Regions from separate parts of the Homo sapiens genome. Here region 1 is reported to be linked to region 2. The links are microRNA targets in miRTarBase. Many come from high-throughput screens and were not tested one by one. Region 2 holds a microRNA gene; the other region holds the end of a gene's coding sequence.

Region 1 (3,000 bases), not on the chromosome of region 2:
TGGCAGTGATCGAGTATAAAGGGAATTGCCTCCCACCCCTGCCTCTGCCTCGCAGAGACAGCCACCTTACACTCCTAAACCAGCTGCTGCAGGGTTTGCGGCAGGACCTCAGGCAAAGCCAGGAAGCAAGCAACCACAGCTCCCACACAGCTCAAACACCAGGGATTTAACTGGATCTGAAGAGTCTGCAGCCCTTAATCAGTACCCATGATCACAGGCCTTTGGAGCACTTTTACTCTCTGAGAAGAACTGGAGCTAGAGATGTAAAATGGACAGTCTTGATGGGGTTGAGAACCTTCTGGGGAGCCAGATGACCCTCTCTTTGCACAATAGATAAAAGTCTTTATATGAATATATATAAATTTATTTATTTTTTCCTTCCTGTGGGATTTCTGGAGAATGAGAATTATCCAAATGCTCAGTCTACCTGAGATAGTAAATTCATGGCTTATGCTTCTGGTCCTTAAATTTGGGTTATTTTTGGTTAGTGCAATTTTGTTTTTCTTAATGCCAGTTTACATGGGAATGCATCCTATAATTCCAAATGTTGCCAGAGGTGGTTGTGTTTTGACATCTGGTCTCCTAGAGATGAGTGCTTGGGATTTCTTAGAGAAAGATTACTTCCTGACAGGGGTAGGGGAGTGACAATCTGCAAGTGAAACTTCCTTAAACAATCTAGTACCCTGCGAACCTTCAGGGGATACTGCAATCAGTCCTCTGTTTTGAGGCAGGATCACACATTACCTTAATGTGTTCCCTTCAACCCCCTGAATGGGCCTGGGAGGAGAGGACCCAAGAACTCAGATGTTCCACCAGTTTGGCCAAAGGGGTGGAGACATTCAGCAGAGGATGTTGGGCTCCAGGATAAGCTCCTTCCTCTTGGTGAGGGGAAGGGGTAAGAAAGAGGGTCTATGCGAGAGAAGGATTAGGAAATTAAACCTCCTAGGAATTTCCTGGAAGTTTTTATTGTTGTCAAATCTGGCCTCTCTGGGAACCCAGAAAAGGGAAATCCGGCTTCAGAATGTGAGAAGCTGGGAGCCCCTTTCTTGGCACAGCCAGGCTGCCGTTCCCTTGGGTTCAGAGGCTTTAGTAGGGTAGTAGTTATGGAAGGACTTAGAAAGGAGCCATCAGTCTTGGTCCAAACACTTGATAGCAGTGCCTGATAATTGCCATATCCCCAGTAAAGTGGGTAGAAGAGATTTTATCTTAGGCTCTATCTTCTGAGTGTATTTGGCCCACTGAACCCATCCACTGTCTGAGATAATAAGTAAGAGTAAGGGTAAAGGGATCACTGGTGTAGCAGACATGGCTTCAGTGACAGAACGAACTATTCTGGTGCTAATTTAGCTGTAGCTGCCTTAGTCTGATACTCATCTACTCCCAACAGAGCTCTTTATCTCTTTTTCTCTACTATGGTTTGTTCTTCACACTATAGCCAGAAAGCTCTTATATTTTAAATGAAATATAGTAGACACTCAAAACATTTATGAAATAAAGCTACAACTCTGCTTCTGCTAAAAAATATACCCCTCTTCTGTCTTAGCATGAATATCCACCCTAGCTAGGTATCTAGGAGTCATACCTAACTTCTAGAGAAACCACTTTCCTTAAAACCACATCTTTATTTTAAATAGATGGATTGTGGCTGGGCTCCTGTAGCTTTTCCTCTTAGACCCCAGAAATATATCTCCCTTTGGGACTTCCAACAGTTCCCTACATGCTTTTTGAGCATCTGCTAGTTCCCAGCATCAATTTAGGCAGAAGGGATACAATATCCACTGTTCATCTAATAGAGACTAGAGATAAGAAACAACCTGTACCATCAATGAGCTCACAATAACAGGCCACTGCCACTACCACAGTGGCCTCAAGGGACACTGCTTCCCCTTTAATGTTTTGGTCCAAATAAAAGTACATGAATCCTAAAACATTTGCTAAAGGCTCAGGGATAACACAAGGAAAGTAACAGCATCAAGAATTTTACTGCCGGGTGCGGTGGCTCACGCCTGTAATCCCCACACTTTGGGAGGCCAAGGCAGGCAGATCATAAGGTCAGGAGATCAAGACCATCCTGGCTAACACGGTGAAACCCCGTCTCCACTAAAAATACAAAAAGTTAGCTGGGCGTGGTTGCGGGCACCTATAGTCCCAGCTACTCAGGAGGCTGAGGCAGGAGAATGGCGTGAACCTGGGAGGCGGAGCTTGCAGTGAGCTGAGATTGTGCCACTGCACTCCAGCCTGGGCAACAGAGCGAGACTCTGTCTCAAAAAAAAAGAATTTTACTAATCTGGCTTATAAATAACTTCTTCAACTAGTGGACTGCTCCCCCCAAGTCCATCTAGGCACCTCTTTAATGCGTTCCAAACCCAAGAGCACCACTCTCAAAGGTTCCCACCGTCTTGGGCGCCAGTTCTTTACAGTAAGGTAGACAAAGTAATGATCACTCCTTTCTCAAAAGGTAACAAGTTTAGGCTTTACAGTTAATACACTGTAAGCCTGATATCTTGGGGAGATGACTAGAAAAGTCAGAGATTATTTCCTTACCCTCATTGACACTGAAATTAACAAGTCATGTTTATTTCCGTAATGTTTCTCAAATCTGCAGTCAACTTGCTCCCTAGTAAGAAATCCAAGATACCTCTATCCTGGGTTACTTCAACAACCTCCTAACTTACCTCCCTCTACACTTTGGCTGTACTGACGGGAATCTGATCATCTTAATTCCCTGGTGATGATCTCCAGTTGCTTATTTCCTATGGGATCCTTATCATGACTCCCCTCCTTGTTCAGGCATCTACTCATCACTCCAACTACTTCCTTTGCCTCTAAATGCTATGCTCTAGAAGCATAAAAGTTCCTATTTTGGATGTTTCCCTGTGCACAGCTCCCCTGTCCACAACCTTTTGTTAAAGCAGTCCCTGCCGTGCAGACAGCCTTCTCTCTTTTACCTATGTAACTTACACACAAACTTTTGGTATCACCTAGGTGGCTCCCCGCCCA
Region 2 (3,000 bases):
CTTTGCATTTGTAACCAAAGACTGTCCCCAAAGCAGAAGCCACACTGCAAGTGTGGTGAGAGCAGGTGGAGGTGGTGGACTGTGCTGGACAGCACAGCGCAGCCTGAGAGAGCTGTCCTCCCAGCAACTGCCCACAAAGGGCTGAGGCCAAGCCTGCCTGGAAGCCTGAACACAAGCTGCTTCCTTGCTTTTAAAATTAAACCTAAACTTGTTTAGGCAGGGCAGTCATTTGCATTTTCTGTAAAACCCAGCACTCTGGTCTTGGAGGAGCTGCTCTGACCTTTGGATCACCAGCTGCCATGGGAAGGCCTTGGGGCTGCAGCCCAATTCTAGAGCAACTAAAATCTGGGAAGCATCTCCCAGCATCCACTGTCCCATGTTCAGGGTTTATTTATCTGCACTGGGAGCCAGAAACCACCAAGTCAGAAAACACAAAAGCCTTCCTCTCTGGTCTGTCTTTTGAAAGGTGGCTGTGTAAATGTGTGTGTGTGTGTGTGTGTGTGTTTGTGTGTGTGTGTTGGGGGAAGTGAAATTATGCAAGTGAATATGGCATTTCCAACACTGATTTATTAATTTTGCAAATGTAATAGGGTGAGTAGAAGCCATTAATGACTTGTGATATTAATGCATAAGACAAGCCTTTACATGATTACGAAGTCTAGTGGAAGACAAAAGGCACTAATGCATAGCACGTGAACAATGATTAACAGTAAACCCGGATACCAGCACTCTGTGGCCCTGCAGTGGAAACACTTACAGACGAGAAACACAGGGTTGGGCCGCACAATGAAATCTGGGAAGTACAGCCACTTTATGATGTTGTCATTGAAGCTGGCACCCTTGAATCTCCACGGGTAATCTGCAGGGAGGGAAGTGGCGAACAGCACAATCAATACTCTTCTTCACCACTCTTCTCCCAGCCGTCCGCTCAGTAATGGCTTCTTCTAAAAGTAGACGGCTCAAGGGAAGGGCAGGCTCACCTCGGCAAGGAGCAGGTGGGATGCCAATGCAGATGAAATACTGGAAGGTGATGATGCATGCCAGGAAGCAGCAGTACTTGGGCCAGATCTCTGCGATGGCTTTCCTTCTGCGTCTATATAAGACAGCGATCAGCCAGCAGGCGTGGATCATGGCATAGAAATCCATTCGCTGGCCAATGACGTTAACTGACATTAGGAAACAGGTCTGTGTAAAGATGAAAAGAGGCAAAAAAAAAAAATCAGGCATATGGGAAAGGGGACTGGTGATAGGTGTCAGGTCTGTGTAGATGGCGGAGACCCATGTCCCTCAGGGCAAGTCTGTCTGCACAGATTCACAAATGCTTGCTCTTTTGAGTGTCTCAGCGTGAAGACAGAAATACTGTACAGATTACTCCCAGGGAAAAACTGACTAAGTAGCTGTTATCATAACCACTTCAGACAATAAAGAGAACAGCCATTTTGATCTCCTCATGAAACATCACCATTCCTACTTCATTCTATGAAGGCACAGGCACTATCACAATCGTTTTAGGTTAAAACAGTTCATTTTGGCTGCAGCTTATGGTTTCAGAATGCACAAAAAGAAAGAAGATTAATACTTTATTATTTATTTATTTTGAGATGGAATCTTGCCCTGTCACCCAGGCTAGAGTGCAGTGGTGCAAACTTGGCTCACTGCAACCTCTGCCTCCTGGGTTCAGGCAATTCTCCTGCCTCAGCCTCTCAAGTAGCTGTGATTACAGGCGTGCACCACCACGCCTGGATAATTTTTGTATTTTTAGAAGAGATGGGGTTCCACCATGTTGCCCAGGCTGGTCTCAAAGTCCTGACCTCAGAAGATCTGCCTGCCTTGGCCTCCCAAAGTGCTGGGATTACAGGCGTGAGCCACCGTGCCCAGGCAGAAGATTAATACTTTATTCTTAATAAGAAACCTGTTAACACGGCAACTGATGGCCATGCATTTAGATGGCTCTGGAGATCCAGAGAGGCCAAGGCACTGCTGTGGAGGGGGGTGTTCAGCACCCAAACTTGGAAAACTTTCAGTCAAGCCAGTTAACCATCAGTACAAATACTTTCTGTTCTTCTCAAGGGGACAGCTATCATGCCTGCAGATGTATCACAAAGTTCCAGTGGCCAATTGGCCAGAAGCAGTTCTTTGAATTTTCATGGAAAAGAGAAATAAAACATATCAGCAAGGAAACTCACCTCCAGACCAAACTTGTAAAAGAAGTAATTAATGAAATATTTGGCACAATTAATAAGTCCATCATCTAGATGTAGTCTTGTAATGTCATGAAAGATAGTTCTAGACACAGGGGCCGTCAGGTTATTTCGACCTCGATAGTATTCCTGATGGCGGTAAATGGTGACTTCAAAGGCCAGGATAGCCAGCATCAGGAGGTTATTCTACAAAGCAAGGAAACACAAATGTGTCAGCCAGAGGCTTTATGATTTGGTAATTTCAAGCAATCCCCACATTCTGCACAGCTACAAGGACAATGTTTTATAAAAGCTCACCTCTCTTAAGCAGTTTTGAGCTCAATATTCGTTTTCTCTGTCTTATTTATTGTGGCATTATCTATATTAGAAAATCAGGCTAACTTCCAAAGTCATAGGATCTAGAATCTCCAAACATAAGATGCTGCTGCTCATTCCTACTTCTCACAACTACACATCTCACACCAAGGAAGCAATTTCCAGTTATCCAAGGAGGGCAGTTCAGCCTTGTTTGCAGCCAGAAGTGCAAAAACAGTACAGAGACATCCTGGGACGCACTGAGCTAAATGAACGGGAAGCTGCTTAGGGGGAAGCTTTTGAACACTCCTGAAATCTGGCTACAGACAGCAATAGATTGAAAAGCATGCTGACAACAGTAAAATAATAATAGTGATGATATAACTATTATTCAAGATAATGAAAATAGTTAACATTTATGGAACCATAGGTTCCAGACACAATTCGATCACCCTTTTCAAATACCAATTTGCTTTATCCTCATAACAGCTATTTATGGTGGGTA

What was found. Region 2 holds the annotated microRNA hsa-miR-6788-5p (CUGGGAGAAGAGUGGUGAAGA, at 900-920, opposite strand). A microRNA usually pairs through its seed, bases 2 to 8, with sites in the 3' UTR of a target mRNA and lowers its output. Matches are read on the target gene's strand: a 7mer-m8 pairs with bases 2 to 8, a 7mer-A1 pairs with bases 2 to 7 and ends in A, and an 8mer does both.
Region 1: the mRNA of MRPL17 is a reported target of hsa-miR-6788-5p. Seed matches in the 3' UTR shown: 7mer-A1 at 1,378-1,384.

Annotation. Positions count from the first base shown.
Region 1 is chr11:6,679,288-6,682,287 of GRCh38, reverse strand. MRPL17 (mitochondrial ribosomal protein L17) reads left to right here. Exons shown (of 3, transcript NM_022061.4): 3 at 1-1,903. The coding sequence ends at 170. Among named protein-coding and RNA genes, the nearest start is that of MRPL17, 2.6 kb to the left of the region's middle.
Region 2 is chr18:10,758,725-10,761,724 of GRCh38, forward strand. MIR6788 (microRNA 6788) reads right to left here and starts at 925; the gene lies at 860-925. PIEZO2 (piezo type mechanosensitive ion channel component 2) reads right to left here. Exons shown (of 56, transcript NM_001378183.1): 24 at 2,187-2,387; 25 at 981-1,185; 26 at 758-859.